Homo sapiens: one gene and its partner. The protein of the gene in region 2 interacts with the protein of the main gene of each other region in a biochemical or structural test. Each region holds a gene or a part of one and is shown on either strand. Other genes may lie near its edges. The genes, in order: EDARADD and EDAR.

What was found.
Region 1: the proteins of EDAR (region 2) and EDARADD form a complex in vitro, tested with the Homo sapiens proteins (one study listed by BioGRID).

What each region holds. Positions count from the first base shown.
Region 1 is NC_000001.11:236,421,492-236,438,014, reverse strand, and holds part of EDARADD (ectodysplasin-A receptor-associated adapter protein), read right to left. Parts: intron 10,624-16,523; coding exon 10,565-10,623; intron 1-10,564. UniProt on the Homo sapiens protein: Adapter protein that interacts with EDAR DEATH domain and couples the receptor to EDA signaling pathway during morphogenesis of ectodermal organs. Mediates the activation of NF-kappa-B.
Region 2 is NC_000002.12:108,982,700-108,999,088, forward strand, and holds the start of EDAR (tumor necrosis factor receptor superfamily member EDAR precursor), read right to left. Parts: upstream 6,522-16,389; 5' UTR 6,261-6,521; intron 1-6,260. UniProt on the Homo sapiens protein: Receptor for EDA isoform A1, but not for EDA isoform A2. Mediates the activation of NF-kappa-B and JNK. May promote caspase-independent cell death.

The DNA of each region.
Region 1 (16,523 bases), on a different chromosome or scaffold from region 2:
CCCTGGGCAGGGCGCAAGGTGGGCGGATCACCTGAGGTCAGGAGTTCAAGACCAGCCTAGCCAACAGGGTGAAACCCCGTCTCTACAAAAATACAAAAATTAGCTGGGCATGATGGTGGGTGCCTGTGATCCCAGCTGCTCAGAAGGCTGAGGCGGGAGAATCGCTTGAACCCAGGAGGCAAAGGTCGCAGTGGGCTGAGATCTGAGATCACGCCATTGCACTCTGGCCTGGGTGACAGAGCAAGTCTCAAAAAAAAAAAAAAAAAAAAAAGAAGGAACCAACCCTGCCGACACCTTGAGTTCAGATTTGTTGTAGCCTCCAGAGCTATGAGATGATGGTAAGTTTAAGTCACTTCATTCGTGGCACTTTGTTATGGCAGCCCTAATACACCAACACCAACATTTTAGAACTGCAGTCTCCCCTCTTCCTTCTCCCTGCCACAACCCAAATCCAGGCCCTTGGGATTACATCCCTAGGTGACTGCAATAGCCCTCAGGCTCTCCTGGCCTCAGTCTTTCTTCCTATCTAACCCCTAGACCATCCCCTGCTAGGATGACCTTTCTAGAACTCTGCCTTTTTACCCCATCATTCCACCGTCAGACTCTTTCGGGAACTTTCCAGGGTGTGGGACATCAAGTTCACACTCTTCCATCCTGGCATTCAAGACTTCCATTTGAACAACTCTTCCCAAAGTAGTGTTTACAGGAAACATGAGATGCAGGGGACATTTAACAGGTATGCCCCAGGGGTGGGAAAAACAAGTATTTCTCTGTTCAACTAAGCTTACCTGTCGATCAGGTGTCCTCTCTATCTTTTGCCTTTAGGGATATGTGCTGAGCTTCTCTAAGAGGGGGATTTTCTTAGTGTACTTGCCTACGGAGCTTCTGTGATTGGAGCATCCACAAACACTTCCACTCACCCTTCCCAGTTGGAGATTTTCAATGCCAAACTTGACTGTAAGCTCTAGGTATTCACCATTGTATCTGGAGACCCTAAGGGAGTGCTGGTAATACATTCTTGGCACTGAAATACTTGAAAGATGGAGGGATGAATGGATGTTTCACCATCTACCATCTGGCAATCTATTTCACATTTATCAAATACTGTCATAGCATTGCCTATTTCACGCAGGTCTCTGCCTCCCTGCTGTATGAACAGAGCAAACTCTTTAGCCCCCTAATAACTCTGCTCCATTTCCTCCCTCCTGTCCCAACCAACTGTCCCAACCAAATGCCGTGATTCAAGGCACAACACCAGTTTCACATCAACTAACTCAACTTCTTGACTTTGCATCTAAAAAGTATATTTCTATCTTTCCCCATCCAACCTTCTTTGAGTCCTGCCTCTAAAAAAGAGTTAAGGTTCTTACTTTTTTTTTTTTTTTTTTTTGACAAGATCTTGCTCTGTCACCCATGCTGGAGTGCAGTAGCACAATCACGGCTCACTGCAGCCTCAACCTCCCAGGCTCAAGTGATTCTCCTGCCTCAGCCTCCCAAGCAGCTGGGACTACAAGTGTGCACCACCACACCTAGCTAATTAAAAAGAAAGTTTTGGCTGGGTGCAGTGGCTCACGCCTGTAATCTCAGCACTTTGGGAGGCCGAGGAGGGCAGATCACCTGAGGCCAGGAGTTAGAGACCAGTCTGGCCGATATGGTGAGACCTATGGTGGTCTCTACTAAAAATGCAAAAATTAGCCGGGTGCAGTGGTGCACGCCTGTAGTTCGAGCTACTCGGGGGCTGAGGCAGGTAAATCGCTTGAACCCAGGAGGTGGAAGTTGCAGTGAGCTGAGATCACACCACTGCACTCCAGCCTGGGCGACAGAGTGAGACTCCATCTAAAAAAAAAAAGGAAAGAAAGACATTTTTTTTTTTAATAGAGATGGGGTCTCACTTTATTGCCCAGGCTGGTCTTGAACTCCTGGTCTCAAGCAATTCTCCTGCCTCGGCCTCCCAAAGTGCTGGGATTACAGGCCTGAGTCACCATGCCTGGCTGAGGTTTTTACTTTTAAAATGCAAATTCATCTCTCTATGCCTTTGACGACTCTTATTTATCAAAATTATGTGTGCATATATCTTGACTTCCTTGCCAGCTTACAGATTCCTTGAGGAAAATCTAGTGCTGTGTGTTTTCTACCAAACATATGTTATCAATAAATATTTGCTAAGAAAATGAATCCCCTCTACCTTCTATAGGAAAACATCCCACGTATTATCCCCCTTCTCTCTATTATTTTTAATCCTCCACTCCTGCTGATCCTTTTTCTTTCTAAAATCCTGAAGTTTCTCATCCTGAAAAGTAGAAAGGAAGCCTTTTCTGTACTTTCCAATATCTTCAAATAACATTTTAATATTTTTCTTTGCTACCTTAATGAATTTCTGGATAGAACTGCATAAACATTCTCATACTCACTTCTTAACTCTTGCAAGTAAATCCAATGACATCTTGGTAGGTCTCCCTCTTGACCACGCTGTGCCTCCTGAGGGTGGTGACCATTCCTTCCTCGACATGTGAAGCGATGCCCTCCCCTGGCTTTTCCCTTTCTTTATTCAATACACAGTTATTGGGACCTACTATGTAGTAGGCATTGAAGATACAATTATGAGCAAAAAGACACAGGAGTCCCTGCCCTCAAGGGGCATAGCCTAATCAATGGGTGAAGACAATGAAATAGTCAGCAAACATGTGACTATGAACTAGGATCAGTGCTATGAAGGAAAGAATCGTTGCCTTGAGCACAGATGGTTTTCTTCTCTGGCTATTCCTCTAGTTACCTCTGAGCTCCTTTCTTCCTCTGACCTCCAAGAGTAAGTGTTCCTCAAGGTTTCATCTTGGTTAACCTCTCCGCTTTCCTATAAGGACGATTTTCCTTGACAGTCTCATCCATGCCTAGGGCTTCAACTATAACCTCCCAATGCATGAATCCTAAGCACAGTACCTAGTGCTGTGTCATCTACACAAGCAGTCTCACTGGCACAACAAATCTCACATACCCCAAACTCCACACACCTTTATCTCCTCTTTCTGAACCAACCAACAAAGAAAACTCAATCCTAACAACACACACACATCTGATGGTCTTCTTCCTGAATTCTCTATTGATCTTGTCAATAGCATCCATCTCCCAGGCACAGGCTTTTAAGCCTGTCTCATCTTCTTTCAAGTCCCCTTAGGATCCCAGATAAGGTCATGAGAAAATCACTGAAAATCCCCAATACCTTCCACCACCCACCCCTCTCCGGCATTCAAGGCTCTGGGGCCCTGGTCTCAACTTACCTTCCAGCCTCATCACCTAAGCTCTCTCAGGCCAAGTTCACTCTGTCACAGAATCTCCCCTCAGATCCTCTGTCTATACCAGGGGTGTCCAATATTTGGGCTTCCCTGGGCCACATTGGAAGAAGAAGAATTGTCTTGGGCCACACGTAAAATATACTAATGCTGATGATAGCTGAAGAGCTTTAAAAAAATCACAAAAAGGCCAGGCACAGTGGCTCACGCCTATAATCCTAACACTTTGGGAGGCTGAGGCGGGTGGATCGCTTGAGGTCAGGAGTTCAAGATCAGCCTGGCCAACATGGCAAAACCCCGTCTCTACTAAAAATCCAAAAAGTTTAGCTGGGTGTGGTGGCGTGCACCTATAATCCCAGCTACCAGGGAGGCCGAGCCAGGAAAATTGCTTGAACCCAGGTGGCAGAGGTTGCAGTGAGCTGAGATCACACCACCGCACTCCAGCCTGGGAGACAGAGCAAGATTCCATCTCAAAAAAAAAAAGCAAAAAAATTCATAATGTTTTAAGAACATTTACAGATTTGTGTTGGGCTGTGTTCTAAGCTGTCCTGGGCCACATAAGGCCTGCAGGCCATGGGTTGGACAAGCTTGGGCTATATCATTCCATCTACTGGGAGGGTTCTGGCTCCGGCCCTCAGACTCGCATCCTAGAATCTATTTCTGTGTCAGATGGGCATACCGTGCTGCCATTGACCATGACATCATCATGACCATGGAGCAACAGGATGGCAAAATCATGGAGCAAACTGGATAAAATGTTTCTGAATTATTAAACAACAAAAGCAGGATATAGAACAATATCAAATTATTTGCAGGGTTTTTTTTTTTGTTTTTTTTGTTTGTTTGTTTTTGATTTTTGAGATGGAGTCTCACTCTGTCGCCTAGGCTGGAGTGCAGTGGTGCGATATCGGCTTACCACAACCTCTGCCTCCTGGGTTCAAGCAATTATCCTGCCTCAGCCTCCAGAGTAGCTGGGATAACAGGCACCCACCACCACGCCTGGCTAATTTTTATATTTATTTTATTTTATTTTTTAACCACTCTGGATCTTGATGTGTAAAGTGAGCATAATAATGGTACGTCCTGCATAAGGTCATTTTGAAAACTATATGAGTTAGGCTGGATGCGGTGACTCACGCCTGTAATCCCAACACTTTGGGAGACTGAGGTGGGTGGATCACCTGAGGTCAGGAGTTCGAGACCAGCCTGGCCAACATGGTGAAACCCCGTCTCTACTAAAAGTACAAAAATTATCTGGGTGTGGTGGTGGGTGCCTGTGATCCCAGCTGCTCTGGGGCTGAGGCGGGAGAATCGCTTGTATTTTTAGTAGAGACAGGGTTTCTGTTTCCCCATGTTGGCCAGGCTGATCTCAAACTCCTAACCTCAGGTGGTCCACCTGCCTCGGCCCCCCCCAAAGTGCTGGGATTACAGGCATGAGCCACCGCGCCCAGGGTTATTTGCTGTTTTTATAATTATGCATACAAAAATGTACAAAGGAATACAACGAAGTGACAAAAATAATTGTATTCGAGTGGTGGAATGGGCGATGCGCCTTTCATTGATCTAGAATCTAAATTTTATTTAGTATGCTTTTTAAAGTAACGCTTTTATTTTAGAATCATTTTAGATTTACAGAAAATTTGAGAAGACAGTGTAAAGAATTCCTATATATATATCCTATCCCCAGTTTCTGTTATTATGAACATCTTACATTAGTGGGATACATTTGTCGCAAGTAAATGAGCCAATAACTTAATGGTATTGTAGTTTCTTTCTTTCTTTCTTTCTTTTTTTTTTTTTGAGAGTCTTGCTCTGTCATCCATGCTGGAGTGCAGCAGCACAGTCACAGCTCACTGCAGCCACAGCCTCCCAGGCTCAAGCTGAGCATGATCTCGGCTCACTGGAACCTTCCTCTCCTGAGTTCAAGCAATTCTCCTGCCTTAGCCTCCCAGATAGCTGGGATTACAGGCACCCACCACCATGCCCAGCTAATTTTTGTATTTTTAGTAGGGACGGGGTTTCACTGTGTTGGCCAGGCTGGTCTAGAATTCCTGATCTCAGGTGATCTGCCCACTTCGGCCTCCCAAAGTGCTGGGATTACAGGCATGAGCCACCGAGTTGGTCTGCAGTTTCTTAATGTAGTTTCTAAAACTAAAAAAACTTGTTTTGTAATCCAAATAAACAACATAGAAGACAATGTCATTATTTTCATAACTTCTAACTCCAACTTAGTATCCTAATATTTATTATTTTTCTTATTTTTATTGTATTACCTTAGACTCCTCTTGGCATGGATTCTTGGCTACAAACTGGAACCCAATTTTTTTTTTTTTCTTTTGGTGGCAGGGTCTGGCTCTATCTCCCAGGCTGAAGTGCAGTGGCACGATTTCCATTCCCTGCAACCTCTGCTTCCCAGGTTTAAGCGATCCTCTCACCTCAGCCTCCTGAGCAGCTGGGACCATGGGACCACAGGTGTGGTTAATTTTTGTATTTTTTGTAGAGTTCAGGTTTTGCTGACCTTGGCCTCCCAAAGTGCTGGGATTACAGGTGTGAGCCTCCGTACCCAGCTGGAACAAATTTTTGCTTTATCTTCATTTGCCATATGCTTATGCATGTCGTTAAAGTAATTAAAACTTTATTGATTGATAAAGGTCCTAGGAAATGTTTTCCTTAAAGTATCATGGAAATTGTTTACACATCTGAGCCTTACACACATCCGAGAATCAAACTGTGTGCACTGCCTCTCCAACAAGTCTATAAGGTCTGCCTGGGGTCTTTTTTTTTTTTTTTTTTTTTTTTTGAGACGGAGTCTCGCTCTGTCGCCCAGGTCGGACTGCGGACTGCAGTGGCGCAATCTCGGCTCACTGCAAGCTCCGCTTCCCGGGTTCACGCCATTCTCCTGCCTCAGCCTCCCGAGTAGCTGGGACTACAGGCGCCCGCCACCGCGCCCGGCTAATTTTTTGTATTTTTAGTAGAGACGGGGTTTCACCTTGTTAGCCAGGATGGTCTCGATCTCCTGACCTCATGATCCACCCGCCTCGGCCTCCCAAAGTGCTGGGATTACAGGCGTGAGCCACCGCGCCCGGCCCTGCCTGGGGTCTTAACTTCCACCTCCTCCTCCTGTATTTTTTATGTCCAAGAATACCCAGTTCAGATTGGTCTTAGAGTATATCCTCAATAAATACCAGTTGTAATAAGTTGTAGAAGTTGAATAGTTCTAGTAGATGGGGTATTGATTTTAAATAACTAAAAGTAAAGGGTTCTTTCTGAAATTGCACTTGAAATGTCAGACCTTAATGTTTTGTTTTGTTTAAGAGACAGGTCTTGCTATGTTGCCAGACTAGCCTCAAACTCCAGTTCTCAAGCGATCCTCCCACCTCAGCCTCCTGAGTAGCTGGGACCACAAGCATGCCTGGCTTAGACTTTAATTTTTGACACTAGGACACTATGATGTTTTTCCTCGGCATCACTCGAAAAAGGAAGCTCAAATAAATCCTTAGTAGAAGCAGATTTTAGTCTTAAATTATAAAAATCACTAAAAAGGCAGATAATAATTATTCTAAAGAACATACTTCCAGCTTGCTTTTATTTTATTTATTTATTTATTTATTTTAAGACAGGGTCTCACTCTGTCACCTAGGCTGGAGTGCAGTGGCACAATCTCAGCTCACTGCAACCTCCACCTGCTGGTTCAAGCAATTCTCCTGCCTCAGCCTCCCAAGTAGTTGGGATTACAGGCGCCTGCCACTGCACCCTGCTAATTATTGTAGTTTTAGTAGAGACGGGGTTTCACCATCTTGGCCAGGCTGGTCTTAAACTCCTGACCTCGTGATCCACCTGCCTCAGCCCCACAAAGTGTTGGGATTATAGGCGTGAGCCACCGAGCTCGGCCTCCAGCTTGCTTTTAATGTCTGAACTATAGAATGGAGTGTGTGTTGTTTTCTTCTTTTAAACGTTTCTCCCTGGTGAATTTTCTTTGTTCTAACTGCCAAGTTCATTTCAAAGAATCCTTCTGAGTATCTAGCAGTTAAAACAAATCCTATAGATTATACAAAGAAATAGTCAACGGAAGCAGCCAGCTGCCTATAGTACTACTTTTTATAGGAGAAGAAGACATTTTGTTTTAAAATAGAACTTTAAAAATCTCAAAGAGGTATTTCCCCTATTTTTTTAGTTGATAAATATATTTTCACCTTTTAGGATAGTATTTACTTGATATAGCCAAAATTATAACACTGAAATTAGGAAAAATGCTGAACAGTGTGCTAACATATATTCTGTACCTCATCTTAAGTGGTTTTGGAAAATCCCTAAAAGTAAACTACATGAAAAACTTAGCATTCTTTTATCTTCAAGGAAGTCTACATGTTACCAAAAAAATGTGAGGAGCAAAATTTTGTTTAAAAATTAGGATTATGAGAAGAACAAATTTATACTTTCAGTTTACTAAACTAGTTTAAATTCAGTAAGCACAGAAGCCCATTATTAGATTATAATTTCAAGGAAAATGTTGAGTATCAGGAGTAAAGAGTGAAGTCTGATATTCACAATTAATGGTTGAAAATTCCCCAAAACAAAGTTAAAACTAGCACCACTGACCATTTTCAAGACAGTTATGTGTTTTAATTTAAACTGCTTATTTTATCAACTATTGTGTAACTTCTCTTTCTTACAGAGGTGATTTGACTACCCAGCAATGTTACTATTAAAGACTTTATTACAGAGTGATGTTTTAAAGCAAGACTAGGCAAAACTTGTTACAAATTAACTTGATGTTATATATAGAAGGAGCAGAATTGAATCAGCCTATTTGAGGCAAAACATGCCTTTGAGATACTGAATGCTGTAAATATAGTTAAGCAACTCTGCTAATGAGCTTTGGGAGAGAGAACAGAGGTGGCTTGGACAGTACAAGAAGTAACTGACCAAGGAAGTCCCCAGAAAGATGTATATCAAAAGGTGGAACAGTGGAATGACAGGCAATTCTTAACTTTCTGTGTGTACTTTTTTGCACAACTTGAACTTTAAAATAATGAACATTCTGGCCAGGTGCAGTGGCTCAAGCCTGTAATACCAGCACTTTGGGAGGCCTAGGTGGACAGATCACTTGAGGCCAAGAGTTCGAGACTAGCCTGGCCAACATGGCAAAACCCCGTCTCTACTAAAAATTCAAAAAAAAAAAATTAGCGGGTCATGGTGGCGGGCGCCTGTAGTCCCAGCTACTCGGGAGACTGAGGCAGGAGAATGGCGTGAACCTGGGAGGTGGAGCTTGCAGTGAGCCGAGATCGCACCACTGCACTCCAGCCTGGGTGACAGAGCGAGACTCTGTCTAAAAAAATAAATAAATAAATAAAGTAGCCGGGCATGGTGGCGCGCACCTGTGATCTCAGCTACTCAGGAGGCTGAGGCATGAGAATCTCTTGAACCCAGGAGGCAGAGGTTACAGTGAGCCGAGATCGCACCACTGCACTCCAGAGTGAGACTGCCTCAAAAAAAAAAAAAAAAAAATCTCTCCCTCTCCCGCTCCCGCTCCCTCTCCCTCTGCACAGTCTCCCTCTGATGCCGAGCCGAGGCTGGACTGTACTGCCGCCTCTCCCCTTTGCACGGTCTCCCTCTGATGCCCAGCCGAGGCTGGACTGTACCGATGCCATCTCGACTCACTGCAACCTCCCTGCCTGATTCTCCTGCCTCAGCCTGCCGAGTGCCTGGGATTGCAGGCGCGCGTCGCAACGCCTGACTGGTTTTCGTATTTTTTTGGTGGAGACGGGGTTTCGCCCTGTTGGCCGGGCGTGTCTCCAGCTCCTGACCGCGAGTGATCTGCCAGCCTCGGCCTCCCGAGGCGCCGGGATTGCAGACAGAGTCTCGCTCACTCAGTGCTCAATGTTGCCCAGGCTGGAGTGCAGTGGCGTGATCTCCGCTCGCTACAACCTCCACCTCCCAGCCGCCTGCCTTGGCCTCCCAAAGTGCCGAGATTGCAGCCTCTGCCCGGCCGCCACCCCGTCTGGGAAGTGAGGAGCGTCTCTGCCCGGCAGCCCAGTCTGGGAAGTGAGGAGCGCCTCTTCCCGGCCGCCATCCCGTCTAGGAAGTGAGGAGCGTCTCCGCCCGGCCGCCCATGTCTGGGATGTGGGGAGCGCCTCTGCCCGGCAGCCCAGTCTGGGAAGTGAGGAGTGTCTCTGACTGGCCGCCCCATCTGAGAAGTGAGGAGCCCCTCTGCCCGGCCGCCACCCCGTCTGGGCGGTGTACCCAACAGCTCATTGAGAACAGGCCATGATGACGATGGCGGTTTTGTCGAATAGAAAGGGGTGAAGTGTGGGGAAAAGAAAGAGAGATCGGATTGTTACTGCGTCTGTGTGGAAAGAAGTAGACATAGGAGACTCCATTTTGTTCTGTACTAAGAAAAATTCTTCTGCCTTGGGATGCTGTTAATCTATAACTTTGCCCCCAACCCTGTGCTCTCTGAAACATGTGCTGTGTCCACTCAGGGTTAATTGGATTAAGGGCGGTGCAAGATGTGCTTTGTTAAACAGATGCTTGAAGGCAGCATGCTCCTTAAGAGTCATCACCACTCCCTAATCTCAAGTACCCAGGGACACAAACACTGCAGAAGGCGGCAGGGCCCTCTGCCTAGGAAAACCAGAGACCTTTGTTCACTTGTTTATCTGCTGACCTTCCCTCCACTATTGTCCTATGACCCTGCCAAATCCCCCTCTCTGTGAAACACCCAAGAATGATCAATAAATACTAAAAAAATAAAATAAAATAAAATAAATAAATTAAAAAAATTACAATTAAAAAATATGAATTCTTTTATAATCATAAAACAATAAACATATTTCCTTTTTGGAAAAAGATAATAGAAATAATATGTTAAAGTTTGACTTCTGATATCTAAAAAAATTAAAGTTTAATAAAGCATTACAAGTATTATATTAGAGTATCTAGTTTTGTTGTGCCTTAAAGAATTTGCTCATCCACAGAGTGCCAACTGCATTAGAAAGAAAACAACTCTCCTTTCTAACTCACCAGCATTGATTTTCTGTTGTTGGCATGTAGAAGAGTATTTCAAAGAATGAATGAAAGCTATAATATTTATTAGAAGTAAAAAAGTTCTAAAGATATGCTACCTTACTGGGATGCTTAGAGACCATTTGCAAACCCTGTTTATGATCTAGAAATCCTGTTTTTCATTTTTTATTTGTAAAACTCTATAAATCTCAAAAAATTTTAGGTGGATTATCATGTACCTAAGGGTAAAATATAGTTGAAATTATTCTTACCTGATTTTTCATATCTGAATTTCGTGGGCAGTTCAAAGTAATTGTATCACATTCTTCAGCTAGGAAAAAAAAAAAGAAAGAAAGAAAGAAACAAAGTGTGATTTTAAAAAGCACACACTCCGTGGTGTAAGACCTAAAATTAAGGTTCAGTGTCACATGCTGCCTTGGCATCTGGTAAAATCAGAAGGGCTGGACTACAAATTCCTCTCCAAACTCTGCTCTTAAGGATAAGATCCCCCAGCTAAACAATGCTGCTTATCAAGAGATTAGGCACAATTCCTGCTTATTTTTTATTTATTTTTTTAAAATAAGAGACAGGGGCAGGCGGATCACCTGAGGTTGGGAGCTTGGGACCAGCCTGACCAACATGGAGAAACCCCCGTCTCTACTAAAAATACAAAATTAGCCAAGAGTGGTAGCGCATGCCTGTAATCCTAGCTACTCTGGAGGCTGAGGCAGGAGAATCACTTGAACTCAGGAGACAAAGTTTGCAGTGAGCTGAGACCACGCCATTGCACTCCAGCCTGGAGAACAAGAGCAAAACTCCGTCTCAAAAAAATAAAAATAAGAGACAGAGGGTCTCACTCTGTCATCCAGGCTGGAGTGCATCTCACAGTAACTTGGAACTCCTAGGCTCATGTGATCCTCCCACCTCAGCCTCCCAAGTATCTGGGAAGATAGGCATGTGCCACCACACCAAGCTAAGTAAGATATAGGGCCTCACTGTGTTGTCCATGCTGGTTTTGAACTCCTGGCCTCAAGTGATTCTCCTGCCTTGGCCTCCCAAAGTGTTGGGATTACTAGTGTGAGCCACTGTGACTGCCCCCTGCTTATTTTTTGGGTAGTGGGTTTCAGTTTCCTACCAACATGTGGAATTATTCAAACAGGCTGATCACGAACTCACATGGGAACCAGAAGGCAGCCTACCCTTTTGATGCCACAATGTTTGTCTCACACAGCCCATGGTTTTTTGCTCTGCTCTCAAGTACAACATCTGTGTCCCCCTGCGTGGCTCTGTGTGATGGGCAGTGTCCTCCTCCCCTGGGCTGTGCATATATGTGACTCATAAACTGCTGCTGATCTTGTCTCTCCAGTGTTGGATGTGTGTGTTTGTCCATCCCCATAATCCTAGAGCAGGGGTGAGGAGAAGGTGATCAAAACAACTGGCATGATAGCCAGGAGTGGTGGCTCACGCCTGTAATGACAGCTATTCAGGAGGCTGAGGCAGGAGGAGCACTTGAGGCAGGAGTTTAAGAGCAGCCTGGGCAACCCAGTGAGACCCAGTCTCAAAAAACTTAAAAATTAGCCAGGCATGCTGGTGTGTGCCTGTAGTCCCAGCTACTTGGGAGGCTGAGAGAGGAGGATCACTTGAGCCCAGGAGTTCAAGGCTGCAGTGAGCTCTGATCGATCATGCCACTGCACTCCAGCCTGGGGGACAGAGTGAGACCCTGTCTCCAAAAATAAAAAAATAAAAAAAAAAGATAAGAAAAATAAAAGAAAAGAAACAACTGGCATAATGAACAGGATGACCCAACCACAATCAAGGACATTTGGTCAGATTTCATTAACTGCTCTCGGCTAACCAACTTCACTAATACCACGCAGGCTGCCTGGGATAGAATTGACAATTACTGGAAGATTTGCACTCTGGCCTATGCAATGCTGTGTTGTCTTTGTTGATTGTTTGGTATCTCATCCCAAGATGAAAACTGTTGTGAACTGACTGGACCCCAGAGCTGTCAGTTTGGGCCTGTGTTTGGCAGGTGGTCTCTTGAGGCTCCCATCTGTAAAGACGGTGGTAGCACATCCCCCTAACCGGTTGCTGCTTAAGTCCCACTTATCAAGGGACAGGTGCAAGCTCTCTTAGCAATACAACTAGCTTGGTGACCATCACTGGCCACTTGGGGCAGCTGTACAGGCACTGTTTGTGAAGTGCATCCCCAGGTCAGCCACGGGGGCGGTCCTTTGCAGACAGAGGTTTGCAGAAAGGAAGGAGAGAGACCAGGGAGTTCCCCAGGGGAGTTTCCCTGGTGCCCTGGTTGCTGCTAAGGCAAAGGCAGTGACCCTGCCCATCCCCTCAGCTGCTGCTTCCCTTGCTGCTGCCCATGTGTTCTCCTGACCCCCAGGGGCATCGAGGTACACAGCCATGGCAGTCTGTGGCCCAGGTGCTAATGAAGAAAGAAAACGGGAAAAAGCATTTGGTACTCAACTGCTCTCTCGGCACAGAGCCCCTGGCGAGCGCACCCAGCTGTGCTTAGCGCTGCTGCTTCCAACACGCCAAAGAGCTCATCTTGCCATAGTGGGTTTAATGTCCCCACTTGGGCCACAGACAAAACCACCTGGCTGGATGAGGACCCCATCCCCAGGGAGACCGACTGGTATTCCCTGGAGGAAGAGGTGGCTGCCTGCGACGGGGGCCACCTGGCTCCCAACACTTTGCTCGTAACCTCCCAGAAGGTCCCTTGGGACATATGGAGACAAAAACTGAAAGCCACAACTTTATGTGGCTAGAAATCCAAAATATTCTGAGGGCATTTGTACAAGACAGGAAAAAATCCATAAACAAATTAGTTAATTAATTAAGGAAAACCCTCATGGCAGAAAAGACAAAGTTGTAGCAGAGTCCCTCCACCTCTGGGTTATAGGCCAGCACTCTTCCATTGGGCTGGACCACGCTGCAGCTTATGCCCCTGTTGCAGCAAAGATCCTGATCCTCAGAGTTGTAGGGAAAACTCCTAGTAGCCCCGGGGCACAGTAAAAGGGTTAATTCACCCTGACACAAGCCCACAGTTTTTAAACTATATGAGAGCAACCACTGCCACAGGGAAGGCCCCACCCCTGATGATACTGATTTGAGGTTCTCTGGGGGAAGAAATTTATCAATATGAGCAGAGTAGAGAAGACTGCCCCTGCCAAAAGTATATCCAGTGACCATAAAAAGGGAATGAAAGAAAGATAAAAAGAAACCTGGACACAAAGGAGAAGACAGGTTGGGTGTGGTGGCTCACACCTGTAATCCCAGCACTTTGGGAGGCCAAGATGGGAGGGTTGCTTGAGGGCCCAGAGTTCAAAATCAGCCCAGGCAACACAGTAAGACCCTATCTCTACAAAAAGTTTAAAAATTAGCTGGGCATGGTGTCACATGCCTATCGTCCCAGCTATTTGGGAGGCTGAGGTGGGAGGATCACTTGGCTCCCAGAGGTCAAGGCTGCAGTGACCCATGATCACACCACCGCACCCCAGCCCTGAGTGACAGAGCAACGTCCTGTTCCAAAAAAAAAAAAAAAAAAAAAAAAGATGCTTCACAGTGGATTACTACAATTTTATTTTATTTATTTATTTTTTGAGACGGAGTCTTGTTCTGTCACCCAGGCTGGAGTGCAGTGGTGCGATCTCAGCTCACTGCAACCTCCATTTCCCAGGTTTGAGTGATTCTCCTACCCTAGACTCCCAAGAAGCTAGGATTACAGGTGCCGACCACCACGCCCGGCTAATTTTTGTATTTTTAGTAGAGACAGGGTTTCACCATGTTGTCCCAGCTGGTTTTGAGCTCCTGACCTCAAGTGATCTGCCCACCTCGGCCTCGCAAAGTGCTGGGATTACAGGTGTGAGCCACCGCATCTAGCCAGATTACTACACTTTTACTGCTGTGGTCTCATCCCTTAAGGCTTCCATACCCCATGCCTAAAATGATTGGAAAACACTGACTCCATCCAATTAGTGACTAGAAAATATTTTGCTATTACAGATTTGCCTAATATGTTCTGTTCAGTGACTATCTCAATAGTCTCTCAATCAAAGTTTGCCTTCATCTGCAAACGGACATGATATATCTTTACAAGGCACCCATGGGGCATTTCAAGAGCCTGGTCATCACACACAGGCTTTGCAGGCAAGATCTAACTGCATCCTACTTTCTCAGTCTCATGAGTGTGATGACATTACATGGATGAGATCCTCCTCTGAGGACATTCTCACTTGACATTTTCATGCAGGCCACGGAATACAGTACTCACAACAATGCTCACGGAAAGAGATGGGCCACTGCCCCACACATAGCGCAAGGCCCTGCCACCTTGGTGAAATTCCTAAAAATTACTTGGTAAACTAAGGGCTGCTCCCACCCAGACACTGTCAATAAATAGCTATTGACCCTCTCTGCACCCACAATGTGAATACAAGTCTAGTATATTTTTAGCTCTTTTTTGGGTTCTGGTGGCAACATATTTCTCATTTACAAATTTAATCTCATTGATGCCAGTACTTGCAAGTCAGCTCAATGTAAATTTGGGCCCCTCCAATAAAAGTCTACAACAGGCAGTCCCACTAGGACCCCCAGAGATTTCTGGAGCTTCAGCAACCTCCTCTCATTCCTCCTGAAGTCTCTGGACCACCCACGATAGCTGAAAGTTGTCCACAGGCTTTTGATGCAAGAAACTGCCCTCCCAGGCCCTGTTCTACACATTATTAGAGCAGCAACTGCTAGCTGCATACTGGGCTCTCTTGGAAATAGAGGCTGTCATTAAACACTAGCTGTGACCCTCCATACTGCGCTGTCCATTATGCCTTGGGTCATGGAAGCAAAATCCTGGAAGCTCCGCATGGTTACCAAGGCCTCCTTGATACAGGATGGAGCTAAACCCGGGCACTCTGGCATGTTCCATCTGCAGGAAGGGGTGGCTTCCCCCATCCCTCACCAGAGCCCATAGTGCTGGAAAAAGTCACCCCTCTTGCAGACTCCTAGGTTATCTGGGGAGCCCCTTCAAAGCAACTGAGTGAAGAGCAATGGGAATTTGTAGACTTTACAGATGACATCACCCCCATCATACACGATGAAGCTCAGCAGACAGTTGCTGCTTTCCATCCCTTAACCAGGATATCCCTGATAAAGGAAGGACCCAAGATTAGCAAAACTGGCCAAACTTCAGGCAGTCATCTTATTGCTGGATGTCCTGGCCAACAAATCGCCCCATCTGCACAGTTTTTATAAATTTTTGGACCATTGCCTAAGAGTTGCACCCTTTGTGGTAAAGAACTCTCAGAATCTCTTGCCTCAAATACACCCAAACTATAAATAAAGAAACAGATGTCTCTATGTACAGCAAGGCCACCATACAAGGCTTCAGCAGAACATTTCCAGTCTCCTTTGGAGTCCCACTTATTACTGACAGTGAGCAAGACACTCATTTCTCTTCTAAGAACATACAACGCCAGGCTCTTAAGCCATTCAATGAAACTTCCACCTCCCCTCTCATATCAGGCAGCAGGTTCGATTGAGAGGCATAATGAAATCTTCAAGAAACTCCTATGTAAGTTACTGGGTGTCACTATTGTCACAGGCCTTAATGAATCTAAATCCACAACCTCTGGAGACATGTACTCCCTACACCAATGCCACACGGGTTCCTCAACTGCCTTTACTGGCCATCAGGGGGACACCTCTAAAGTTCCTGTTTTTGATGACCATCTCACCATGTGGCCCTCTCCCTCCTGGTCAAGTGCCTTCCTTGCTTCTTAGTGGGGCACTTCTATTCCCTAGAAGTCTCAGCCATCATTAAGGTTTAAATTTATGCCATGGCATCTAGGGGTGAACTGTTGTATAAGACCTAACATTGAGACTCAATTTATGTGCTGCCTTGACATTGGTAGAACTGGGAAGGGCTCACACCTGTAATCCCAGCACTTTGGGAGGCCAATGCGGGTAGATCACCTGAGGTCAGGAGTTAGAGACCAGTTAGAGGTTAGGTTAACATGGTGAAACCCCATCTTTACTAAAAATACAAAACTTAGCCAGGCGTGGTGGCGGGCATCTGTAATCCCAGCTACACAGGAGGCTGCGGCAGGAGAATGGCTTGAACTTGGGAGGCAGAGGTTGCAGTGAGCCGAGATTGAGCCACTGCACCCCAGCCTGGGCGACAGAGTGAGACTCTGTCTCAAAAAAAAAAAAAAAAAAAAAAAA
Region 2 (16,389 bases):
CAGTAATTCTAGAGAAAGTTTGGTCTCCTGGTTTTTAGAATTGACTCAAAACCGAGTGTCCCGAGTCACCTAAGTCTCCTTGCTTTGGTTACGTCTGCCCGTAAAATGAGAAGCAAAATTGCTTAGTGAGTGCTGGCGGGAAACTAGGACATTGGCGGGGTTCACAGTGGCCACAGAACAAGGACTGGCCACCCAGACAGGCCAGGTGCCTGCTGCATGTGCAGGGATGGTCTCTCTCTCTCCAAATCTCTCTAAGAATGAGCTAAAATTCAAAAAGAGTTCTGCTGAATGTAAATGGTACTTATTGGAGATTTTATTGCCCATAAAGAAATCCATCAACAGAAAACCACACTCTGCAAATCTACCGATGCACAATTAGTTTGTGCTGCTTACAAATCCCACTCTAAACTCAGCTGTCAGTGCCCTCCCTTGGCCACGCTTCTTGGAGATACAGGCTTTCTGCAGAGGATGCCGCATGTCAACAAACACATCCCCAAAGTGTACACTCTGATTTATCTTCTTCATTATGGACAGGAGGCTTTAGGAACAGCCATTTTGAGTCTTTATTAAGGACTAAATCTTAAAGAAAATGAACCTTGAGACTCCTCTAAAGTACCTTTTAGGGATGCTCAGTGCATTTCCATATTTTTAAGGATTAGGATTTTTTGGGGCCAGAGGTAATGTTTATTACCCAAGGACACAGAGCCTCAATCCAAACAGTAAACCATAAAACCACATCTAACTGGGTAAATAAAATCAGCCAACTTAATAGACATCTGCATCCCACTGGAGCATTCCCCGTGGCCTTCCACTTTCCTGTATTCATCAGACCCCAACCAGACATCAAGTCAACAATCCCGCCCTTCCAGCTCCTCCCTCGTGATCCATCTGTCTGCCTTGACTGCCCTGGAGTTCCCAGAGACAGGTATCCTCCTCCAGACTGACTTCCCTCCTAATCGACCTGCATCTTCCAGATACGAGGAAGGAAATCAAACTTTCCAGGTGCTGGTGGCTCCGTGCGGGACGGGGCAGGGAAGCCACCTTCTCTCCAACTCCAAAGGCCATATGGAGTCAACAGGAACAGGTCTGGCATGCTGGCCAAGGGCATCAGTGATCTCTGAACCCGTTCTCCAACAATTTTGCCAACTGAGCCATCAGAGAGCCACTGCGTCCCCACTCCATCTCACACCCGATGCTGGAAGGTGTCCCTCTCTCCAAGTGAGGAGGAAGCGAGTGCAGCTGGCCAGTGGCTCTGCGACTGTGGGAGTGTCCCAGCAGGGCTGCAAGGGGGGCGACGGCGATGTCTGTTGCTAAGTGTTCTTTCTCTGCACAACTTATTGAGTCTTGATAATCTACTTTCAGATTTTTGGAAGTGTAATCATGTGTTTCAGGTTAGGGTCTTCATAATTTTTCTCAGAATGGATCCCTTTGGCATGTGTTAACGGCCAAGGGAGCAGGTGTTGGTGAAAATGGATCATTCCTCTCCTGCCACCCTTCCTGCTGCCTGCCCTTCCTGCCCTGCACCTCAGCCAAGCCAACTCTCCCAGGAAGAGGCTACTTGGAGACCCAGCTCCTTAGAAGCAAATTACAGCAACCGGCGTGGCATGGGATGGGGTGGTGTGGGCACTGACTGTCCCAGAACAACACAGGGCGTGAGCCACCATGGCTGAACTTCCGCCCTGACTTGACTTCTGTTTGCCTTTCCATCACCCTCAATGAGAGCCCAGCCCCCTTGCCACGGCCCGCTCAGGCTCCTGGTTCTCCTCTCCTCTCCTTCTGTTCAACCCTCCTTTCCCTCTGCTCCGGCAGCATGGCCTTCCTGCTGGTGCTGGGACATCTCCAGCTCACCCCACCCCAGGGCCTCCTTTCTTGCGGGTGTCCTGGTTCACTCCCTCACTTCATCCAGGTCTTTACTCAACTATTTCATTTCCCAAGAGGCCCCCACTACTACCCTGGGCACCTTCTTTCTACCTGCCCTGCTAGTTTGTTTGTTTTTTTTTCATGGCGCTGGATTTATGCATTATAGCTTCTCTCCCTGCAGCAGAATCTAAGCTCTGTGAGTGCAGGGATGTTCTCTCTCCTCACCCATGGGACCACTGTGTTACTCACTACATCCCAGCATGGTGCCTGGCATGTAGCAGATGCCCAGAAAACATTTGCTGAATGAATGAATGTGCACTAAAACCAACTTGAAATCCTGCCTGCTTCCTCCTGTGCATGCAGGATTCTGTGCAAACATGGGATTGGAAATATGGCAAATGGAAGTTTTAAGAGAAGAGATTTGGTAACCATCTGAGAGTCGTCAAAACAGTGCATGCCCTCTCATTTTTTGCTTGCAGTCTGGTTTTGCATGTCTTTCTTCTATCCTAAGAAAGTGCTTTCTCTCAGGATTAAGGTGTTGTTGGCAGAATCAACTCTTTTTTATTTTCAGGAGACTAATACTGTATCTTATTTCAGTATTTGGGCTCACCTTTTAGTTGCCTATATCTAGCTATTGAATGGTATCAGTTAACAACATCAGCCTTAAGCCCACCACTAAGCTTGGCTTCTGTGCTACACTGCGGGCCTCAGGGCTGTTACTAAGAGTAACGTGACTGTGGTTGTTATTGCCCTCATTGCTGATTTCGTCCGACTCACAAGTGAAGGCGCGCCTTCCTACTGTGTTTGGAGCAGTAGGTCTGATTGACCGTGAAGTGAGTTAAGCTGGCATGAGCTCGCAGGGTGGTGCAGGCAGGGCTACCGCCACAGGTGCATCTTCCTCTGTAGGGCTCCTTACGGCCCACCTGTTTTCCATAGTCCTCTGTTTTCTCGGAAATGGAAAACAAAGGCATCCTGGCTGGTTACATGTGTACGTAGGTGTATAAAATGATGGGCATTTCCAGAGTGTGTCTGGGCAAGAGGATCTGGGCAAGGAAGCAGGACCTCCAGCTTCACCCACATGTGTCTGCTCCTTCCTGGGGTCCAAACAGTGTGTTTGCCACCCTTGGGCATCCAGCATTTGAGAAATAACAGGTGTCTCTGCCCCCAGAGAGGGTAGCTTTGCTAACTAGGATTTGTTTGCTTATTGACTTAGGGGATGCTGATGTTTGAGCAGCCCCCTTGTCCCTAACTGTGTCATTGGAACAATTGGTGACCTTTCTCTGACAAGAAGGATGAAGGAGCCCATTCATTCATTCATTCATTGGACATATTTTCATGGAGTGCATGATGTCCTTGGGGTGTGCTATGACTGAAGACACTTCAGGTTGTAGGATCCCTTAATACATGACCTAATGAATGGCTGATCCCTGCCAAGACCCAGGGCAAAGCTTTTTTCATAGCTTTGACTGTACAGGGTCAGCTATCCTTGGGTAATGCTTTGTGACACTCTAAGGGCAATGATGAAAAATTAAATATGGTCAAGCTCATTTGTCTCAGGGGCCAGTGGGCTGTTGGGATGCCTGAGCCCCAAATGCCATTTTGAGTTTTTTTTTAGTTACTAGACTATCTTAGACTGAACCACCTACAATGGCCTATATTTGACAGTTTTTTTCACTATATAAAAACTACAAACACTCTAACTTTTATCAGGAGGGTTCACAAAGAACAAAACTGAGACTGTTTCCTCTTGATCCCTCGCCTCTGAGGACAGGAGATGAGTGTGTCTGGGGCTGACACGACCCTGGGAAACTAAGATACAGGAGGGGGAGTGTTTGCTTACTCCACTCTTATTTTTATAATCCCTGGTGGCTGTCATTGCACCATCTCCTTGTGGGGGCAAATGTGTCAGTGTTGGAGGCAGAGGACACAGGTTCTAGTCTCAGCCCCTCCAATTATGAGTGACAGGCTCCACACGAGGCCTGGGCATACTGAGTGCTAACCTAGACCAGTTCTTGGTGTTCCCATAATCATTATGAGCTGTGGGACTTCGGGCAAGACAGTGAACCTCTCTGAGCCTCAATTTCCTTATTGGGAAAATAGAGAAGACATTCATGACAACGCTTTGTAAAGTGCCATAGAAATGTACAGCAGAGGTTAAATGATTAGACATCAGCTTATGTTTCCTTGCTTTATTTTTTAGGAAAATAGTAATCTTTGGGACTTAAAAAAAATTCCTTCCTGCAATATACGAATTCAGTAAGGACAGAATCGTAGGCATTGAGATGGAGGCGGCATACTCACAGGAAAGGCTGGCTGGGGCTTTTGTCCCCTAATTGATCTAATGTGCTAAGTGGGCTTAATGTAAGTTAATTAATGATACTATTGGTGGGTGGAATACCTAGGCAGAGCCTCAAACAGCATCAAAGGAACGAGCAGGCAGGTGTCATCCAGGATAATTGAGGCATGCAGGCAGTCACTAGGCAGGCTAGGAGGAGGGTGAGGGGAAACTGAGCCCAGCTGAGGGGCTGAGCCACTTAAGCAGCAAGGCTGTCTGCCAAACACCATCCTGTTTACAGCTCCTGTATTTGAATTTCAGATTTGCTTGAGTCTTTGAAGCTGGGTTCCTGGGCATTTCCTTGAGAATAAATTCTATTCTTTGGAAACCACAAAACGCACTCACTTGGACCCAGAAAGGAGCGTCAGGTAACCCAGCTTCCATCTGTGGGCCTATGAGACCTGAGGAACTTTGACTAGAAGAGGCTCCCCATTTAACAGAGGCAAGTAGGTTTTGCGCTCCGTGAGATGGGGTAAGACCAGGTCTGTCTGCACTCCGGAGCAATGTTGGGCTGCCGCCCAATGGCAGGCACTGGGCTAGGCAAGAGGGTACCATGATGCCTGAGAAACAAAGATGAGCCCCTGACATGTCTGTGCTTCACAAATGTGTATGCCCAACAAAATGAAAGTCCAGCTCACAAAAGCAAGAAACCAGGTAGTGGCCAGGGAGTGAAAATCAAGCATTTCAGGGAAAGTGTATTTACTTTTTCCTCCCAAAGACTGGTCCTTCCAAGATTATCCTCCAACTGTGCTGTCACAAATTAATCCTCCCACAGCACAGCCTGGCCCACTTAGGGATGGGGAGGGGTACAGTGGAGACCCCCGGCCAATCGCCACCAGGATCGCCAAACTTTCCCAGCCGTGAAGGGTACACGTGGACTGTCATCGGAACGAACGCTTATTTCCAAGCCTTGACCAGAGTCACTCTCTTTTTGGTGGCCTCTGTCAAAATGTATCTTTAAAGGTTTTAAGTGGCTATGACTTACAAATCTCAGAGTATTAAGCCAGGCAAGAAACATTCTCTATTTTAGATGCCTGGATCCCTTTTTTCCTTCAGTCTATTATGGCTCTTCACTTCTTTGTTACACTTTCACTCTTGCTTAGAAAGTGTCTCAAAAATGCCACTTGAGAGCCACAGAGCAGTGGCCTGGGGACTGGGGAAGAGGACGGTGGTGCTCCTGTCTCTCCGTACGTCTCCTCACATGCGTGTACCCCTGGCTGTGTGGGATTGCCCACTGACCGGCATCTGCCCTGCTTGTTGATTTTAACTGTCCCTCTTGTTGCTGACCCAGCACAACATGGGCAGGGAAACCCAGTGGGAACCTCGCCTGCTGACCTCCCTGCCCAGCCACCCGCTTCTCCCTGAGCTGACATCTCAAAGCTTGGCTGCTGCAGGAGGCTGGGAATCAGAGCCGACTGAATCAGAGCCGACTCCTGTCTAGGAGCCCAACCCACCCCACGGTCTGTCAGAGTGTTGAGAGGAACCTCTTGGCTGGAAATGAAAACCTCAATCATCACAAATAGGTACCCACTCCCCTCCTTCTCTCCCTCTCCCCGCTCCCCCGCCACCAACACAGAGGCCAGGATATGGGGGGTCTCAGACACGACTGGAAACCCCACTTGGAAGGTCTCTTAGGTCACAGCGGGTACGCAGAGTTGGAGGCAGGTACAGAGCCCAGCTAGAGTCCCTGCCGCGCCTGCCTTCCCCAGTGAGCCGGGCACAGGGGCAAACCTGAGAAACATACTTTTCACGCTCCCTGGAGGAACCCGTTGCTTCAGTAGCCCAAATCTTAAAGCCTGTGAAGCACACACAGAATTTGTCTCCCTAACCAAATGTGCAACCAACAGCAAAACAGGGTTTCTGATGTTTTTCTAAAACAAAGGAACAATCTCAGGTCTTAGAACTGGTAGCGCAGACATACTGCAATCGGTAAAGCTTGTTCAAACGCAACCCAAAAATGACATGCATTTCAAAAATGCACCCAGCCTCTCTCCCAGCCCATGACACCTCCGTCTCGGCCACAGCTGAAGAGTTTAGAAAACCAGAGGAAAGGACCAGGGCTTACCTGGCTTCTGTTGGAGGTCAGCTTCAGTCCCAGCAGAAGATGGGTCTATGAAGAAAGTCAGGTACCATCCAGTTCTGGGTGACAGGCTTCACAGGTGGCCACCGTGGCAGCCCTCTCAGAAGCAGGTACTCTATGTCCTTAGGGGCCAGCAGGGCTGCCTGGGACCTGGCACACCTCTCTGACACTAGCCCCGCTTCCTTTCCGTTTAAAGGGCTTCCCGGGAACTCTTCCTTGACCGCTCCCTGCCCTGTCTGCAAGTTTGGAAACTCAGTCCTTGCCGAGGGGCTTTCCCTCATTGCAAACTCACCTGCACCATCTAGAGGTCTCTCCCAGCACTGGAGAGGCTGGAGCGGGCACGTTCAGCCCTGCTGCCATAGGTCCCTGGCACACCTGGCTCTCCGGCCGTCTGCCCCTTAAGAGATCTGTTGGAATGCGTAAAAATCATGGATTTTTTTTTTTGCAGGGGTGGGGGCCTTGCTTCTATCAGAGCCTTTAGGCGTGGGAGTGCTAAAAAGCTAAACTAGCATTAAAATATCATTAATCAAAGCTTGTTCGTAGAAGGACCCCCCACTGAGATGGCTACAGGCATGGGTGCCACTGCACGGATTCAGCTTCCAACATGTCTGTTCACATTCTCACCCATCCCCCGCACATCCCTCAGGGTTTGAGCCACCAGGACTGCTCTTCCTTTCCTCTCTCTGGACACCTCACACCACCAGTGTATACCCATGTAACTTCAGATAACCATACACACCCCCCGTATAACTAGGTAATTAGGAAGCCATTTGAAACATCAACATTTTGAAAGGACATACCTTTCAGTATTGGGCAATTATTTCTCAAAAAGTAAATGATTGGGGGGGGGAAAACAGCCTTAAAATAATGTCATTCTCTTGTCATTTTCTCCCTCATTCACACCTACACAGATAAATACAGGAACAGAGCAGCTCCTCCAGGCTAGATTTCTGTGTTCTCCTTTTCCATCTTGTCCCCTCTGCCTTGGAAACCTACAAGGTAACTCACACATGAGAAAGTAAGAGCTTAAGAAAGAAACAGTCTGGGCTCCGTGGCTCACACCTGTAACCCCAGCACTTTGGAGGCTGAGGCGGGCAGATCACTTGAGGTCAGGAGTTTGGGATCAGCCTGGCCAACATGGTGAAACTCCGTCCCTACTAAAAATACAAAAATTAGGCCGGGCGCGGTGGCTCACGCCTGTAATCCCAGCACTTTGGGAGGCCGAGGCGGGTGGATCATGAGGTCAGGAGATCGAGACCATCCTGGCTAACAAGGTGAAACCCCGTCTCTACTAAAAATACAAAAAATTAGCCGGGCGTGGTGGCGGGCGCCTGTAGTCCCAGCTACTCGGGAGGCTGAGGCAGGAGAATGGCGTGAACCCGGGAAGCGGAGCTTGCAGTGAGCCGAGATTGCGCCACTGCAGTCCGCAGTCCGGCCTGGGTGACAGAGCGAGACTCCGTCTCAAAAAAAAAAAAAAAAAAAAATATACAAAAATTAGCCGGTGGTGGCATGTGTGGAGGCTAAAGCAGGAGAATTGTTCGAACCCAGGAGATGGAAGTTGCAGTGAGCCGAGATTGTGCCACTGCACTCCAGCCTGGGCAACAGAGCGAGAATCTGTCTCAAAACAGAAAAGAAAAGAAAAGAAAAAAGCAGACAGAAATGTATGGGGCTGGGGCAAGGACCTAGACTGTAAAGGACTAATTCTGCCTCCACAGAGATTAAGCTGAACCAGAGTTACTTAGCTGACTTGATCCTTGTGGATGATTAATCTAGATAATATAAGCTCCCAAACAAGAATTTTAACTTGAATTTTCAGGTTTGGTTGTCTACCCTGCTCATGCCGAGTTCAGACTGAGGGTCTGTGATAAATTAAAGTCACTGAAATTATTAAATTAGGAACCTGGGAAAATGAATGGGAGGTATTCTGGGCTAATCTGTTCTACTCCATATAATTTTTACTTTCTGGTGTGCTCACAGTGTGTTTGAGGTTTGGGATTATTTTAGGTGTAACTAAAACATTTTTTCTATTGGAAATTAAGTGGTGATTTAAAATTTACCAAAAGGAATGATACTGATATTTCCCAAAGAGAGAGAAAAAAGACACAAGAAAAAATTAAAATGGCACAAAATATGGATGCTGTAATAGAAGCCAAGGGAGTTTTTTCCTCTCTTTGAAAAAAATCCAAACATCATGGCATTAAGCAAGGTTATGGATGGTTATACTTGAAGTCTGCCTAGTCATCATATCCAAATGAAAATGAGTATATAATTAATTCAGTTGATTAAGAGAAAGAATGAAATGAGAAATCATTGCTTATCTTCATCATGTAAAGCTCCAGAGCTTTGAAGATATGTGATTTTCTGTTTTATACATTTCCTAAGAGACTGAGGCAGAAATAGCAACAGGTTATCAATAGCATTTTTTAAGTAAGAAAATGAATCAAGACTGCAGAACATGGTTGGGTGAAGGGGGTCTCCTGGGGCTGTGTTCTAAATTTAGAACAAATTTAGAAATGATGAATGTAATTTAGAACAAATGAATTGTAATTTAGAACACATGCTTGCTACACATAACAGCCCGGCCAGCCACCTGCCCCCTTCATGAGGTGTGCTCAAATGCATGGCCAGGAGTCTTATGGAGGGGCACAACAGGCAGGCTGGCCCCAGCTCTCAGCTCCGCAGCAACAAAACTTCGCAAGTGATTTTAGAGAGTCAATGGACTCCCATCCCTGTAAAAAACACTCAGGGGTTGGTAAGAATTATCTTGCAGATCAGATAATTTCCAGTGAGTGAAACAGAGCCATATTCTGGTCATCGTGATTTTAAATTTGTGTCTTTTATTTTTTTGGTGAGACAGAGTCTTGCTCTCTCGCCCAGACTGGAGTGCAGTAGCGTGATCTTGGCCCACTGGAACCTCTGCCTCCCAGGTTTAAGCGATTCTCAGCCTCCCGAGGAGCTGGGATTACAGACATGTGCCACTGCTCCCATCTAATTTTTGTATTTTTAGTAGAGACAGAGTTTCACCATGTTGGCCAGGCTGGTCTCGAACTCCTGACTTCAAGTGATCCTCCTGCCTCAGCCTCCCAAAGTGCTGGGACTACAGGTGTGAGCCACCGGACTCACCTTAAATCTGTGTCTTAATTACAAATCTCATGTTGTGTGAGCAGAAAGAAAATCCTTGATACCCATGTACCCCATCAAAGTAGCATTCTCCTATGCCATCATGTTCATGTGTTTATTCATGCAGCAAATGCACGTCACGTCTTCTACGTGCCGGTACTGTTCCAGTTGCTGGGTAGATCACAATGAGAACAACAGTCAAAATCGCTGGCCTCAAGAAGCTTATGCTCTGTTTGGGGAGGCATAGAGTAATCAAGTTATGAAATGGAGATGAAAAGTACTTCTTGGCCGTGATAAGCAAGGGTGCACAGGATGCCTGGATTATTTGTGTTTGTATGTGAGGGGATTATCAGTTGGCTGGTGACAGTTTCCTGCTACTAATTACTGTCTCAAAAAGTGGCAGGGGAATCAAACACTCCAAAAGCAAGATGCTCCTGTCTGGCAGCTGGGCCCTGACATATAATTGGTTTCACCTAACAACTCACCACAGCAAGTAAACTTCTGGTTACCTGCAGGTGAAGTCTATCTCAGAAAACCTTCCAGGAAATGACATTGCTCAAATCCTAACACAGTGTGTGTATATTTGATGAAATGTTTTTATGCTCATGGTGACACCCACTAAGTTATTCAGAATAAAATGATCACAGTTCTGTCTATAGTGTAGAGTTTGCAGCTTCAAATTTGTCCCACAACTGGGACTGTTTTCTGGAAGAACGTTGCCCCTGCCTCGTGGCACAGTGGCTCCCAGGACTGACCTGGCCTGGCTTCTTTGCTTTCCTAAAATGCGTTTGTCCCCAGCTCTGTCAGTGGTAACCTCACAGGGCTCTGCCCTCCTCAGCACTGGCCAGCTAGTTTTTAAAGTATCATCTCAGAGCACCCGCTACTCATGTGGTCACAGTTCCATAGGCAGAAAAAACAGGAATATAAATATTTGTGATTTAAAGTCTCTCTTAGGAACCACACCTTCCTAGGCTTGCAAATGTGCCTAAAATATGAGAATGGAATTGGGTGATACGGCGGACACCAGCAAGCTGATGTGGGGGTAAGGGGGTGTGAGGGGCGGTGCTTTGGTTGTTGAGAAGGAAAGTTGACCAAGACTTGCGAAGGAAGAAGGCAGTCCTGCAGAGTTGGGCAGAAGGTGTTTCAGATGGACCAAAGGTCTTGTACAAAGGTCCTGTGGGGCCCAGAGCCAGGTGTGCTGAGGAAACTGACAGGAAACTGTGGCCACAAAGCAGGGAGCTGGCCTGGGAGGCAGCTGAGCCCAGCCCAGGAAGGGTGGTAGAGACCACATTCCACGTGGGGGCTGGACAAAAGGGTATGGATTCTATTCCAAGTATATCATGATTTGAAAATGATGGAAACTTGTTTTAGAAGTAAAATGGGCCACTATCCTTAGCAAAATGAGGAAAGGGAGAGACTAAGTCTGGGGGAGTATTTGCACAGAGGGAGGGCCTTTAGGGTGTCACCTAGATACCGGGAGATGAAATGCTATGTGAACCATTGTCAAGCTTGGGTGATCTGTCCTCCCCCAGCATAAATTCAGATGGGACAGCTCCAGGTCAAAGGCAGAGGAAAGAGCTGGGCTTTGCGTTGATTGTACCCTATTGGAGAATGAGATTCTGCATTTAGTTATTTAACTAAACTTTGAACACTGACCCCCTGCTACTGATTAAACAAAAGCCTGGCTTTCCTTTGGCTACCTGCCTTAGCTTGGGCTGCTATAACAAAAATATTGTAGGCTGGGAGGCCTCAACAACAGACATTTGTTTCTCCCAGTTCTGGAGGCTGGGAAGTCCGAGATCAAGGTGCCCAGCAGACCCAGTGTCTGGTCATCTCCCATGGCAGATGGGGTGAGGCCGCTGTCTGGGGTGTCATTTACAAGGGCACTAATCCCATTCATGAGGCTCCATCTCTAGCCTCCATGACCTAATCACCTCCCAAAGACCCCACCTCCAAATACCATCACCTAGGAGCTTAGGATTTCAATATATGAATTTCAGGGGAGACACAGACACCCAGACCACAGCACTTCCCATTTGCCCAGGATTCCCCCCATGGACACCTTATTAAAAATGCAAGCTGGATTTGGAACACAGCTGTCAATAATGACTCTGGTCACATAAAGGAAGGACCATAATGAACCACCTCCATGGATGAAGGAAAGCTTCAGGCCAGGAGCTTCGTGCAGGGCAAAGGCATGCCCTCTCCCGTGGCCTAAGCTCTCTCTGCTCCCCAGCCAGGGTTTGAGACGGCCCCCACCACCTCCATTATGTAAGCAGTGAAAACATAATTGAAATTGATCCTCGCTGAGAATGGCTTTACGAGCTTGAATAGTGCAAAGGTTCAAATACTAAATCTTTTTTACGATCTGTAATATTGTCATTTAGCTCAACAGTACACATCACTATGTTTTTCTAATAAAGGAAACCACAAGAGTATTATAAAACCTATTTGCACTATACCAGAAAAATTAAGAGGGGAGAAAACTGAGTTTAGAAATATGAAATATTGATATCTTCATTTGAAAATCAACAAATTCATCCTTCCAATAGGCAAGTACATATTTCTATCATAAATCATGGCTCCGGGGAAAGGGGATTATGGGGTCATGGGATTATCATGCTATTAACCAGTGGATATCTAAAAGCAGGGAAGTATGGGTCCATAGTATAAACATAAAAAATTATCTGTGCATTGGGTTATATATATATATATATATATATATATATATATATCTTTTTTTTTTTTTTTTTGAGACAGAGTCTCGCTCTGTCGCCCAGGCCGGAGTGCAGTGGTGCAATCTCGGCTCACTGCAAGCTCCACCTCCCGGGTTCACGCCATTCTCCTGCCTCAGCCTCCCGAGTAGCAGGGACTACAGGCGCCCGCCACCACGCCTGGCTAATTTTTTTGTATTTTTAGTAGAGATGAGGTTTCACCATGTTAGCCAGGATGGTCTCGATCTCCTGACCTCGTGATCCACCCGCCTCGGTCTCCCAAAGTGCTGGGATTACAGGCATGAGCCACCGTGCCCGGCCGCATTGGGTTTTATTTATTAGTATTTATTAATCAATGGATTTTTTTCTAGAGACAGGGTCTTGCTCCATCACCTGTGCTGGAGTGAAGTAGTGAGACTGCGGCTCACTGCAGCCTCAAACTCCTATGCTCAAGTGATCCTCCCACCTTGGCTTCCCAAGTTGCTGGGAATACAGGTGTGCCTGGCCAAATTAATGAAATTAAAAATCACACCTATTACAACATTTTGCAGGTAATCTGTAAGGCAGAGGAACGATTGATTTACAAGGGCTAATGTGTTCTTGCAGGGGGCATGTTAGTTCTCCCTTACTCTTCACCTGCTATGGATATGAACCCATTGTCCAAAGATCCCCAAAGCTGTGGTCAGCAAAAGAAAGCCAAAATGGGAATAAACAGGCATTTTAACAGGAATTCACCCTGGCTGGCAGAGCTGCTGCCTGCCACCTCTTCCCAGCCTCCCTTCTCCAGCAGGAATCTCCCAGCTCTGCTCAGAGCAATATGCCTGGCTAAATGGTTGCATTTCTTAGCTTCCCTTGCAGTTAGATGTTGCCGCGTGCTTCAGAACTGTCCAATGAGCCACAGCAGGTGTCAGAGACTTCCAAAAAGGCTGCCAACTCATCTGGGAGGAAGCTGTTCTGCCCCTTTCCATGCGTCCCCTTTGCTGCCACCTGGAGTGTGAACATGACAGCTGGGTAGACATCAGAGTAGGACGGAAGGAGCTCCAACCCCTTGTGCAGCTGCCCCACCAGGCCCAAATTACCTGCCTCATTCATGGGAAAGAATAAACCCTCATGTCTTTCAGCCACTGTAGCCAGGCCTTATTAATAAAGACTAATTAATTTGCAGTTTCTCATTATGAAAAATTGGGATATGCAATTTATTCTTTTCTAGATAAGCAAGGTTTAAGAAAGTCTGCTTTATGGCAATTTTAGCTTTCATATCAGTTCTGCTGGGGTATCATTCATAGTATAAAATGATTCCCCAAGGAAATGAAGTGTTGACTAACTGGAAAGATTCTGATTTGGGAAGAGGGAGTGAAGAGTGAGAGTTCCCTGCTGCCTAACAGTGGGGATAGGTGCCAGGCTTCTGGTGTTGACCAGGTTTGAACCCCAGGAAGGTCTGAGTCTGGGTCTTGGTTCCACCCTAAGCCACACAGTTTAGGGATCTTTACACCCCAGGTGCAGGGATGTACGTTTAAGTCCAGCACAGTTTCTCACAATCCCAAACTGGGCTGGACACTAGAGAGCTCTCCTCTACTCATGCCTTCAAGGTGGCTGGTAATGTCCAACCACACTCCTTGGGAGCAGCTCAAAGTAAATAAGAAAGGCTCCAGATAGGTGAGTGGCCACCAGGACACTGGCCTCATTAAGCAGGCCCATTAACGGTATGCGCCATGGACTTCAACAATGAAATACATACCCCAGACGGGATCTAGGGGATTCACTGACTGGGAGAGAGTATGTGGAAACTTCTACTTCCATTCCCCCCTGCCCATGAGCATGGAGCCCAAGCCTGCTGTGCTGTTGTCCTGTGCCTTTGAATCAGTGATCTTACCAGCAACATCCATCTGCACAGGCCAACAGTGTGGCAGTAACACAGGAACCCTGAAGTCTCGGTGGCATAATACAATCATAGCTCGTTTCTTGCTCATGTCACATCTGATGCGGGCTAGGTGGCTTTTCCAGATGGTTCTCCTGCCAGCAGTGACTCAGAAACCCAAACTCCTTCCAGCCTGTGGCCCCACCATCTGCCTCTTCTCAGGTCAGACAGGAGCAAAGGCTTGGATGAGCACATGGGATGCTCAGGACCAGGCCCAGCAGTGGCACACCACTTCAGTTGGCTAGCATCTACTCACATGCCTCCAGGCTGACTGCTGTAAGGGTGGGGAGTGCAGTGTTTTTGTGTGTCCAGGAGCAGAAAATGGGATTCAAGTGTGTAACTAGTCTCTGTTGCCAGAAACTTTCCTAAACTCCTCATTCTGTTTAAACAAAACCTCTAGCCAGTGGGTCTGAAGCATAAGATGTCCTAGTATGGCTGGGCGCAGTGGCTCACGCCTGTAATCCCAGCACTTTGGGAGGCTGAGGTGGGCAAATCACGAGGTCAGGAGATCGAGACCAACCTGGCTAACACGGTGAAACCCCGTCTCTACTAAAAATACAAAAAATTAGCCAGATGTGGCGGCGTGCGCCTGTAGTCCCAGCTACTCAGGAGGCTGAGGCAGGAGAATGGTGTGAACCCAGGAGGCAGAGCCTGCAGTGAGCTGACATTGCGCCACTGCACTCCAGCCTTGGAGACAGAGCAAGACTCTGTCTCAAAAAAAAAAAAAAAAAAAAAAAGATGATGGTCAGTAAGGGTTTAGAAATGTCCAGAGAACACCTGCATTTCCAACCTTTGGCATACCTAACAGATAGAAAGAGGCAGGATGGCTGGCTGGATATCTGGCCCTGGAGCCTGAAGACCTGGTGTTAAGACACTGCTCTGTGGCCGAGCACGGTGGATCACGCCTGTAATCCCAGTACTGTGAGAGGCCGAGGTGGGTGGATAACGAGGTCAGGAGTTCAAGACCAGCCTGGCCAAGATGGTGAAGTCCCGTCTCTACTAAAAATACAAAAAATTAGCCGGGCATGGTGGCAGGCTCCTGTAATCCCAGCTACTTGGGAGGCTGAGGCAGGAGAATCACTTGAACTCGGAGGGCGGAGGTTGCAGTGAGCCGAGATCGCGCCACTGCACTCCAGCCTGGGCCACAGAGTTAGACTCCGTCTCAAAAAGCAACAACAACAACAAACAAAAACACAAGACACTGCTCTGAACATCCTGGCATGAGCAAGCTGGCTAAGTCCTCAGCCTCGGCAAGTATCAGTGTGCATCTCTGAATGATGGTGATTGTCTTTTATGGGTCATGCTGAATTGCAGTGAGATGGTTGTATCCACTCTTCAGTCTACCGGAACTGTTGCTCTCCCTACACTCTGGGATTGTTCTTGCCTAGGTCACCAGGGACCTCCTAATTGCTAAAGCCAGTAGATACCTTTCAGTCTTTATGCTCCTGGAGCTTTTTAATGCCATGCAACAAGACCATGATCTCTTCTTCCTCTGTGAAACCTGACTCCTGGTTTATTCTTGGTCTCCTGTGGGCCATTCATCTCGACCTGCCCCTCGGATAATGCTGTTTCCAGGGTCCCACTGCTAGGGTCTCCATATTCTCCCAGGCTCATTGTTTCATCAGCCTGGCGACTCCTGCACTTAATTTTGAGCCCAGGCTTCGTCTTTTAAGCTTTGATTCTTGTATTCGTGGAGTGGAAAACATCTCGTTGGGAAGTCTCAGAGATGCTGGAAACAACACCCTCAACACATCCAATCCTCCTCGTTTCCTGAATCAGCCAGGACCACCACTAATCCTCCTAAGGAGAGATCACAGAATCATTTTCAGCGTCTTCTCTCTCACTGTTTATCCTGCTTCTGACTTTCTCTTCCTCAACCCAGCCTCTACAGTGATTTATCTAAAATGCAAACTCCGAGCCCCAGCCACTGACCTTAATAATGAAGGCACCCTCTCACTGGCCCCTGCCAAGTGTTCCTGGATGCAGACCACAGAGCTCCACAAGAAATTCAAAGATCTGGATTTTTTTTTTTTTTAAGTAACATCTTCCCATTTTTAAATATGGCAACTTATCTGTGTGGCCCAAGTAAACACAAAAAATGGCTTCAGCCTGGCTCAGGCCCCCAGGTGGCCAGTTGGTGTCCTCTAGCCTGAAGGCTGAAAGCTGGGCCCGTGCCTCCTCCACCAGAGCCTGGTTCCCTGCTAGCCTCACTGTCCCCAAGCTTGCTTTGATCTTCAGACTCTAACGGCAGCAAAAGGTTTGTGGTCTCAAGCCATTCTGTTTTTCCAAGATGTGATTTTGCAAATAAATTTATCCATTTTAGTGCTTATTGTCGAGCTGACTATAGAGTTTAAAATTCTTA